Homo sapiens: one gene and its partners. The protein of the gene in region 1 purifies or fractionates together with the protein of each later gene. This does not show direct contact. Each region holds a gene or a part of one and is shown in the gene's direction. Other genes may lie near its edges.

Region 1 (3,726 bases):
CCTGGCCCTCCGTGGCTTGTCTGTCCACTCTTGTGCCAATTCTAGGTTATTAACCTGGGGACACTGGGGCTCAAAAGGACTGGTGTGCCAGCCTCACTCAGAGGGAGGCACTAAAAGGCAGAGAAAGAAGGGGCAGCCTCAGGGGGGTGCCAGGACTGTGCCAGCCCCCACCCTTTGGAGGCCATATCCACCCTCCCCTCCTGAAGTGTCACTGGGCCTCAACTCTGCCCCAACATCCTCTCTCTCTCGCGTGCTCTCTCTCTCTCCTCCAAAAAGCAAATATTTGGAAGGGGACTTTGACATCTTCTTTCTAGTTCAGATGTTTATATCTCTTTGAGTCACAGACCCCTTTGAGAATCTAATGAAAGCCGTGGGCCCATTTCCCCATTAAAATGCATGTATACACCAATATTTTCATTACATTCAGGGTCTCTGTGAACTGTTGAAGTTTCCAGTGGGCTGAGATTAAGAATTTCTGATCTGGTTCAACCACTTGATTTTATTATAGATGAAGACAAGACACTAAGGCCCAGAGAGGGCAAGTGACTTGCCTATGATCTCACAGCAAATTAGTGGCACAGCCCATTCTGAAGCAGTGGGCCCAGACTCCCAGTTCAGTGTGTCCTTTCCACTCCCCCAGATGGTGTCTCCCTCCCTTTCCTCTCCATAGCTCACTTCTCCATCAGTCCTGTCCTAGGGCCCTGCACAGAACAAAGTACACGTGACGTATGGTCAGTAAGTGTGGTTAACAGGCCAGCCGGAAGAAGGAACAGGCCAGCCGGAAGGAGGGCCAACTTCATTTAGCTGATTCTTCCCTGCAGGGCCAGGGTAGATGTGGTTTGATTGCAGAGACGTGAGGGGCTAGGTCAATGATTGGATGGGTCTGTTCCAGGGTGTTCCTGTGATGTCTCAGAGCTCCAGGCTGTCACCATGCGAGGGACCAAGAGAAGTGTCCTTAGGCTACAGAGCAGGGGACCAGAAGCATGCCCAGGCTTCCTCTAAATGCCAGGACCTTAGCTTTTAACACCACCTCCAGCCATCTCTCTTCCTCCTCTGCTCTGGAACCCATGCTGGCTCCCTAGTACCATAGCATCAGATTCAGATTTCTTCCCCTTGTGTCTTCTTTGCATAGGATGAGCTCATTTCTGCACTGGTCATTGTTGTCATCCTGTCCCTAGCTGGTGTGAGTGGGAACGAGTGGGGAGGTGGGCAGAACTCTGGAATGTCCTCTGCCTGCCTGGGGCCTTGGCCGGATATCTTGCTGTGCCTTACCAGCCGTCTCTGCCCCCAGGACTGCAGTGCAACGCATCCGTGGACCTCATTGGCACCTGCTGGCCCCGCAGCCCTGCGGGGCAGCTAGTGGTTCGGCCCTGCCCTGCCTTTTTCTATGGTGTCCGCTACAATACCACAAGTAAGGAAGAAGTGGAGGGTGGACCATCTGCTGGGAGGTGGGACAGGATGGGGAGAGCTTGGAGGTGGGGGAAGGAAGAATGACGATGACAATAACAGTAATACCTCTTGTGGGGATCGCCCCTGTTTTCCAAAGGTCAGCGCTGTATTCTCCTGGGTGCCCTGTGCTCATTACTCGTGATTCTCACAATACCCTTGCAAGACACTATCACGCCTCCTATAACTAAGGCCCCTGGGGCTCAGGGAGGTTAGGGAACTTGCCCCATTGGCAGCTGGTAAGGGGTGAAGCTGGAATTTGCATCCACGTCTGTCTGGCACTTTCTTCTGCCATTAAACTTCAGGTTAGTCTGTTTGAGCCTACTGTAATACCATGAAGCAGGGCAGGAATCATCAGAGCCCCAGCTGTGTGGATAAGAACCTTGAGTCGAGAGGTTCTGAGGCCTACCCCGGGCCCTCCAGCCAGGAGGCAGGGGACCCAGAGTTTCAGATGCACAGGCACAGGCTCAACTTGCATCCTGGATTTGTAGGTGGAGTGGGGCAGGACGGGGTTGACCCAGGGTCCGTCGGATACTTGATCCTCATGTAAACACCTGGCTCCCCGGAGGCCCGAAACCCCCAGAGCCGGGCTTTGCAGCTCCCTGCTATTCCGCCTGCCACTCTCAGAATTAATTTGCTCTCCCCTGTCAATGAGTCAGGTCCCTGCTTATCAAGAGAGCAACAGCTGTGGGCCAGGAGCCCTAACCTACCTGAGGGGAGGCTGGGGGCCTGATCCCTGCAATTGGGGCCTCCTGTGTGCACCCTTGGGTCCTTGTGGTCTTGAACTCAGAGTCCCAAGAGGGCACAGGGGTGAGCCCAGACACCATGTAGTTTACTCCAAGACTCACTGTGTGACCTCCCAGCACATTGTTGCCCCTCATCTGGCCCTCAGCCCCTCATCTGAGGATGGAGAGGGCTGGATGGCTTGGCTTCTAAGATGTCTTCCAGCTCAAAACTCCCAGATTCCTTCTCCTGCCCCTCTTTCCTCTACCAGATGGATTTGGGGTGTTAAGGTTGGGGGCTACAGCAGAGGAGTAGGAAGACCCAGCCAGAAAGTGACTCCCCAGGGAGTGACTTGGGAGGCCAGGGCAGGGCAGGAGGCTGGGGCAGCCAGATCTAGCAGCCTCGTGTGTCTGTACCATGTCCTGGCCATGGGAGGGACTCGGGAGAGGGAGAAGACACACTGGGAGGGGCTTGGGGGCCAAGGGGAGGAAGTGCAGAAAGGAAGAAGGGCCTCTTGGCCAGGTCAGTCCAAGGGGTGCACAGTTGGCCAGCCCCCAATATAGTCAGGCCCATTTTGTAATAAGGAAATTGAGGCACAGAGAGGCTAATAACCTATCGGAGGTCGCAGAGCCTGGAGGCAGGGTCACAGCCCAGGGACGATAACTCTCACGATGCTGGGGGCTGAGTCCTTCTGGAGCCCCTAGGAAGGAGGCAGCATCTGCACATCAGAGGAGCTTCCAGGAGGAGGCACCAGTTCCTGTCATGTCCACTTCCAGAGTGATCCTCGTGTCTGGGCCTACCTGCCCCCACTCCCCAGCGCCACCGCCCAGCCTCAGGTTTCAGATCTGAGTTGGTCACTCCTTCACTTGGAACCCACTCTTGTGTGGCCTCCGTGTTCAGGCTGCTGGGTGGGGCCGGCCAGGCTGTCTGTGGTCATGGCCCTGTCACCTTTTGCAGCCAGCCCTGGCCACCCCCCATGAGTTCCCTCTGCTCCCGTTGCAAAGGGTTACTTGACATGCTCCAGATAAACATTTTCAGCCCTCAGTGCCTGGGCACACACTTCACTTGCTGGCCCTGCCTGAAGTGGCAGTCAGGAGTCCTAAGTTCTCATTCCAGCTGCATCTGCAGCTGGTTAAGTAGCCCTTGGCACAGACCTTCTGTGGGCCTCAGTTTCTACACCTGCAGAATGGGTGGGAGGATTGAGTGTGGTGCTCTCTAGGCTCCCCCGCACTTCCCTCTGTGATCCCAGGAAAGGAGCTGGGGTGATGGCCTCTCGACATGGGGTCAGTCTGTGAGGGCAGGGCTGGAAGACCCCTTTCCAGGTGCCTCCAGCGCCAGATGAGGTGGAGCACGCCCGTGCAGTCAGTCACAAGTGGGTACCCAGAGCTGCACCTCATCATTAAGCACTAATTAATCCATTTACTGATGAGTTGCTGCCAGGACTTCTAGGCCTTCTCCCTAATGCCCTCCCTCCTGCTGCATCTGATCTTCAAAGGGATGGGAAGCATTTCCAAAAATATCTATTTTCCCGTGATTCTTTGGGAGGACTGCTCAGCT
Region 2 (3,726 bases), on another chromosome or scaffold:
TCAGACAATGAGGTAAGTGTTCTTTAGACAGGCAATGGATTATCATTTTATTATCTGATACAAGTAAATGATAGAAAGTAGGGTGTGGGGAATGGAGTGAACTTACTTCTTTGCTTTCTTGAAATTTGATTTTAGGACTTTTAAAATAACCAAAAATAATCCTGTGGTAAGCTCTTCTGTCAGATGTGTGAGCAGGTCTTTGTGTTCAAATCTAATTAGAGCCTATTTGATACTTTTTAACACTATGCAGAGGTTCTGAAAATGAAAATAACATGGAAATCCTAGGCTAATCATCAGATCATTTTATAGTCTTCCTCCTACAGGATAGAACTGGGAGTGTTGGAGTGAGTCATCCTGTTTTGTTTTGTTTTCATTTTGTTTAAATCATTGTTTGTGTGATGGGTGTGTCCCAAAGAGTACTCAAAATCTCTCTTGGCAAATGTGAATGACTTCGCAGCTGGGCTCTAAATCAGTTCATTATGAACCATGGAATATCTTGGTGATGCGGCCTTTCTGCTCTTATAGAATTCTCTAGGCTGTTGCATAATTTTGTCTCTATTAAGCAGTGAGCAGTTGAAGAAGTATCCTTAATATGCCTGTCTGGAGAACAATTTCAGTATTGTTATCTCCTCCCTGTTACAGGGAAACTTAATAGGTGTAAATGTGGATTTTCAGGATGGTAAAGACCTGACGATGAATCGATTATGGAATATATTAAGGGATGTAGAAATCTGTACTTCTGAGCTGTAGTTGTGTGCATGTGTATGTGTGTGTTGGGGGAACGGGGAAGACACCATTGATATCCTGTTAGAGGCAGAGATTGCAGTGTGGTAGGTTAATAATAAATATTAAATATCCCAATAATAGGGTAGCAAAAAAGAAGGAAGTGAGAGATCCCCGTTTGCTGACTAAAATAGGATCTAGCATATTATGCTTTTAATACAGTACATTTTTTAGGTACACAAGAATTCCTGACTGGTTCTTTTAAATATTTTTCTGCCAGTATTAATATCTCCATTAAAATACATATCCAAGCTCCTATAGTATTTCTTTTATGTATAGGATTGATAAAGTTTCCGTGAACCAATGTCTATATAGAACCGAGAGTCACCTGTTCATGCATTTCGGAATCATTCCTGAGTTACAAGTATATTGGCTTTGGAGTTAACCAAATAACTTCTGTTTAAGAATGAGGCTTGTTTATCAATCAGTTGCCCCCAATAACTCTAAAGCAAAGTGCCTAAAAGCATGCTACAATATATGACAGTAAGTTACCAAGATACAAGGCAGTTACTGTCAGAATTTTAGCTATGATATCTTTATCTGTATATCTTTATGTCTGTGCTTGTTTGTTACATAATCCCTGGATGTAGTATTTTAAACATACTGCATATTTTGGGAGCAGATCTATTCTAACACTTCTGATTTTTTTGAATGTTGTGTCAAGACAAAAAAATATTTTGAGGGCTTCCCTACTATATGCTGGGTACCAGAGTATCTAAAAAGACACAAAAATGGGGAAAAAAATCAACTCTGCCCTAGAAGACCTTATAAACAAGATATGCTTTTGGTCAGAATAAGCCATAGGGGGAAAGGTAAGCCTTTGTTATGTAGGTTGTCATTTCTCTTCTTTAATTTGCCATCCAGTAAAATAAAATTTGCATTTATCAATTACACAAGAGATGTAAGAAGCAAATGTGAATTTATTTCTGATGTTTACATTATAGCTAGAGGAGGACAAGTGTTTATCAATACACATTTTCCACAAGATAAATGCATTATATATATATGAAGAAGTATATGTCATGATGTAATACTTATCAATTTACCACTTCAAAATTATCAAAATAGAAAAGAAAGTAGAATCCTTTGGCAACTCATCAGCTAATTCAGTTCAACCGAATTGAATCTGGTTCTTCAGTTATCTGAACATTACAGATCATTTATTCCATTTTTCCTCAGACATAGCTAATAGTGACTAGATTTTTATATAAAAGTATATTATGTTAATTAGAATAAAATGGCATCGTTTTTATTATCATGTGTCATAATTAAAGTTCCCACAGTAACTTGACATTCAATGTACAGGTACTAAGAACGTCTAAAAATATTGTCCCAGTTCCTTTGATTCCTGTGGTGATGTCTTATGCTACTTTTAAATAATTACAAATTAAAATAATAAAGCTATCATTTTTTCATTAGGACTCCCTAATCACTTGTGAATCTTTTGAAAGTCTAGGTAATTCTATAAGATGAAAGTCAACTTGTACGGTGTTCCTTTCTGAGACCTCTAGTCAAGCCTGATGATAGTATGGGATCATGAGAAAAGTGCTGTTCATTAATTCCTTCATCCATATTAGCCACAGCTATCACTGTCTGTAATTAGGAAGTACTGTCAAAAAAATATTTTTTAATGTTGGGATGTAGTCTCATTACCCCTTTTTTTCCCCAGTTGTACTAATGTATGATAATGTCATTGCCTCTCAGCTTCCTTAATCATTAAGAAAATTCAGAACTACAGAATTCTAGTTTCCCCAGATTTTTTGGTTTTGGTGAGACAAAACTGAAATAAACTCCAGAAACATTTTGTTCTTGGTTTAGAAGTCTGATGTTCATAACTTTAATCCAAAGCAGACTTTGTTGTGCCTCCCTCCCTTGGTATATATTTGTGAGAAAAACCTAGGAATGGATTCTGACAGCTTTTCTTTCTATCCCAGGAAACTGTGGAAAATGCATTGCAGACCACAGACAAAAGCAGCTAAGGGAAGCATTTTAGATTATTGCTTTTGCTTTTTAATATTTCTAAAACCTTATAAATCTTCATAATTTTATGTAGGTCTGCTTTTGTCTGCCTAGATTCTCAGCCTTTCTATTGTTTGGGGAATGAATTTCTTTTTTCCTTCAAAGAAGGAAATACATTATCAAATAGTGGCTAGAATACCCAGGGTGGTAGAGCTGTGTTGATTTGCGTATTCCCTTTACTGTCTTATTGATGTGTGTATTCCCTTTGCTGTCTTATTTTCCCTGTGATAACACACCAGCATGGAATCCACTATTCTGCTGTAATCCTTTCATGGGTATGTTATTTCAGTGCTCCTGAAAGCCCAAAGCACACAATAAGACATGCTTATAACATATTTTAGTTTATCAGTGTGTATCCAAACACTGCCTTTTAATCTTTATTTTTCTGATTTTCTGTTTCATGAATATCTGAGCACTACTACAAAGATGTTTTCTCAGACATTGTCTCAATGACTGTCTTCCAGGCTAAGCTCTTTATAGAATCTCAAAGACTGAGACCTTTTTCTCCTCCATGTCCTCTTTGAATGTGAGCTTTGAATTTATTAATCATCTTGAAATGGTCATGAGGAATTATGTTATCATTTTATTAAAACGTCAAGATAGTTCTCCCTACCCTAGGCCCTCCTTGATCAAGGTGGATTCCCTGACCTTGGTTTCCATAAACATGTATTCATCCTTCAAACCTGATTTTTGAAGTTGCTCAATTGATAAAAGGAAAGCATAGACGTTTATAATACCTTAGCACTTTATACCCAAAACTTGCTGAAGCTGCTACTCATCAGAATCTACCAGCTGACCTCACCGTGGCGGGGACAGATCAGGTTTGCTGGTGTGCGTCATAACGATGAGGTTACAGGAATGAAGAGATGAAGGCCTGTGGCCAAGGTCACTGAAGGCCAGGTCCCCTGCCCTTCCAGACCAGCT
Region 3 (3,500 bases), on another chromosome or scaffold:
GCGCTGGCACTGCTTCCTGCTGCTCCTGGGCCTCCACTGCAGCCTGGGGCAGGTGGAGGTCTAGGGGGTTGGCTGTCAGCCATCTATGATCTCTGACTTCTTTCTCTTTTCTCAAATGGTGGTATCTCTTCTTTGAATGTACCCCGGCGTCTGCTTCCTCTGGGGAGCTTGTAAGGATGAGCTGTGCTCTCAGCTCCTTGGCAATGGGTTCCAGGCAGCGTGCCGAGGGAGGGCAGTCAGGCCTGGGGGGCTGGCAGGGGTCTCAGTGCCGGCGCCTCCCCTGCCCTGCAGGATCTCCCCTCCTCACTGCCCTCCCCGAGTCTCCAGGATCAGCCGCCTTTTGGGGCTCCCTCCAAGGCCCTCTCCCCATAAAACCAGGTTTGGTTATGCCTGTCCTCTGCTCCCCAAGTCCTCCCCTGCACTGCCACTCCTGGGACCACAGACTGTGATCATCTTTCTCCAGCTGGACTCTGAGCTCTCGGAGAGCAGGAGCCTGATGTGGTCATTCTTACATCCTCGGGGCAGCCCAGCAGAGAGCCCTGCACACAGATGCCAGGCAGTACTGACTGGAGGAGCGAGTGTGGTGTGAGTCGTGCTCTGTGGCCCTGAGATGTAGGGGCTGTGGCGGGGGCTCAGCCTTAACCAGTGGAACTGTGGAGCCTAAATGAGCCGGACTTGATTTCTCCTCCACACCTAAGCTCAGTGGCCAAGGGGGCACAGTCCCCACTCCCAGCTCAGGTCACTCTAGTGGCTGCTCCTGGCAGTGCCTGGGAAGATGTGCAGTGGAGGAGGGAGCTTGGCTCTGGCTGTGGGTTTCCAGCTCTCTGTTAGGCAGCTGCAGGCCAAGGTGGCTCTGTGGAGTGGGGAGCATGTTCCTGTGGAATCCTTGGGGTCTCAGAGCCTCACCACTCTGGCCTCATAATGTGGCTCAATGAGCTTGAGTGTGGACAGCCCGAGGCCCTGGACACAGGTTCACTGGGCCTCCCAGAAGCCTCCGGCTGCCCTTTTCTGAACAGATCCCAGTGAGGTGGCTCAGGGCAAGCGAGACCTGCTCCTCCCCGGAGGGATCACACAGATGACAGGGAAATGCTCCTGGGGAATCAGAATGAAATTTACTGATTGAGGATAGGAGAGTGATGAGATCATATGAGTTTACTGAATCTGTTTAGCAGAATGAAAGGGCAGTGCCGTGTACTACAGCTCCTGGGGGGTGGGGAATAACGCCATGCCAGCTGTCCAGGTGCCCCTGAGAGGCAGCTGAGAACGCTGCCCTCCGCCGACCAACTTCAGCTAATAGGAACCAGGGGCTGGGGCTGGCCGCCTCTACAGGTCATGGTAGAATGATGTAGGCACGGGGGAGATACTGAAGGGAGGACTGGCCGTAAGACGCACGGAGCCCGCCATGCTGCTGTTAGTATCGATTCCTCGAAAGCCCCACAGCCTGCTGATATGGACTGGAGAGACCCATTGCATAAGTTCTGGATCTGGCCCAGCTGTGTCACCGCGGTGTCCCCTCAGGCCAGATGAGGTTAAGTGACATGGGCAGGGAGAGCGCTGGCACAGTGTGGGCCTCAGTGACTGGTGTGGTCACTTCATCTTCATTGCCCTCCTTCTGCTCAGAGGGGGGCGGTGTGGCAGTGGGACCAGCAATTCCTCAGCACCCACGGTGTGCTCACCCCTGGGGGAGGAGGTCATCTCCCCGTAGATGCCCAGTGGCATCTACACCAGCTGTCTTCTTTTTCTTGTTACTTGTGTCACTCTTCTTATTTCAGAGGTAGAGTTTAGCCTGGTTCACCTCTGGGCTTTAGATCCAGAGAGCTGGGTTTACAGTGAGCAAGTTCCCAGGGCTAGGACAGGGTTCTTGGGGAAAATAAGGGAAACTGTCCCTTCCTCCCACTCCCTGTGCAGAAATGGATTCGTTCACAGAGAAAGATGCCCTCTGTGCTGCTGAGAGACAGACTCTGCCCAAGTGAATGAGCTCAGCGCCCCAAAGCAGAGTTTTTGCCCAGGGCAAGAGGCTGCCCCCGTTCGGCATCTGTGGGGCGCCCATCACGTTCATCCATTTGCTAAACAGGCTCCTGTGTGCAGGGCAGCCCTCCACATCTGCCTTGCTTAGAACATCATGCAGTGTCAGATGCAGCTGAGTAGGACCCAGCCAGAGGAGGTGTGGCCAGTCCCCCAGGTGCTCCTGGAGGTGGCCCTGCCAGGAGCCTCTCCCCTGAGTGGTGGCACCCAGGATGCTGGCAGGACCTGGCATGCCTTCCCCTGAGACCATAGGAAGGGCCCGGAGTCTCTCACCACTCCCAGAGAACATCCCCCTACCCAGGATGGGCCCAGGAGGAGAGGTCTAGGCAGGAAGGGCCAAAGCCCAGCTCTCCGGCTCCGGTCCAGACTCCCCCAACGCCCACACACACAGGCACACACACAGGCACGCACACACACTCAAGCACATGGATGCACACAGGCATGCACACACAGGTGCACACACATAGGCACACATGCACACGAACACACACAGGCACACATAACAGGTGCATGCACACACACACAGGCACATGCACACAGCCACACACACGTGTGCTGGGAGACCCTCACATAGCTGGGAACTCTGCAGTGGGGAGAGCCCGGGTCACCCTGTCCTCAGCCTCCCCAGAGAGCCATGGCTGGTGTCCAGTCCAGTCTCTGCCTCTGGCCCCGACATGACGGGTTCTCCGGAAGCAGGGAATGAGATGTGCTGTGAGGTGTAACTGACTCAGGTTCCATCTGGCAGCCTCTCGGAGGAGCTGCCGAGTAGCCCAGTCCCTCTCTGTCAAGCCTAATTCTCTCCTTCTCTTTCCCTGTCTCTGTGTCTCCCTCCCGCTGTCTGTCCTCTCTCCTCCCTTCCTGCGGCCGCAGAACCGCATGCACGAGTCTCTCATGCTCTTCGACTCCATCTGTAACAACAAGTTCTTCATCGATACCTCCATCATTCTCTTCCTCAACAAGAAAGATCTCTTTGGCGAGAAGATCAAGAAGTCACCTTTGACCATCTGCTTTCCTGAATACACAGGTGGGTGCCAGGCAGTCCTGTGCAGGGGGAAGCCTGCCCCTGACAGGGACCCATGGCTCAGAGAACAGGCTGCTCGGCCAGCACTGCTGGGGCTAGCTGGCGAGCGGGACCCATTGCAGGAGACTGGTGGGGCGCAAAAGAAAAACAGTGCTGTGCCACCAGGTTTGGGCTTCCCAGGACACAGCCCTCAGCGTGGTGGAAATGGCCCCTCCTAAGATATATGTGTTAGGACCAAGTGACTCAGGAGTGGTGGGGAGCAGGGGGCAGGACAGGATCACAGGCTTCCCCCTTCCTCCTGGTCACCCTCTAGAAGAGGTCTCAGGACAGCCTCCTGTAATCTCAGCAGTGGCCTCCCCTCACCCCTGCCCAGAGCCCCACAGCACCTTTGCATGAAACCGAAAAGTGGACACGTGGCCTGTGAACAGGGCCTGGACTGCCTCTTGGCCCCACC

What was found.
Region 2: the proteins of CRHR1 (region 1) and GNAQ purify together in Homo sapiens (affinity purification with western blotting, with the first as the bait; one study listed by BioGRID). This does not show direct contact.
Region 3: the proteins of CRHR1 (region 1) and GNAO1 purify together in Homo sapiens (affinity purification with western blotting, with the first as the bait; one study listed by BioGRID). This does not show direct contact.

What each region holds. Positions count from the first base shown.
Region 1 is NC_000017.11:45,815,172-45,818,897, forward strand, and holds part of CRHR1 (corticotropin-releasing factor receptor 1 isoform 2 precursor), read left to right. Parts: intron 1-1,291; coding exon 1,292-1,411; intron 1,412-3,726. Other genes in the region: LINC02210-CRHR1 (CRHR1-IT1-CRHR1 protein), read left to right, coding at 1,388-1,411.
Region 2 is NC_000009.12:77,790,749-77,794,474, reverse strand, and holds part of GNAQ (guanine nucleotide-binding protein G(q) subunit alpha), read left to right. Parts: coding exon 1-12; intron 13-3,726.
Region 3 is NC_000016.10:56,348,489-56,351,988, forward strand, and holds part of GNAO1 (guanine nucleotide-binding protein G(o) subunit alpha), read left to right. Parts: intron 1-2,895; coding exon 2,896-3,049; intron 3,050-3,500. UniProt on the Homo sapiens protein: Guanine nucleotide-binding proteins (G proteins) function as transducers downstream of G protein-coupled receptors (GPCRs) in numerous signaling cascades.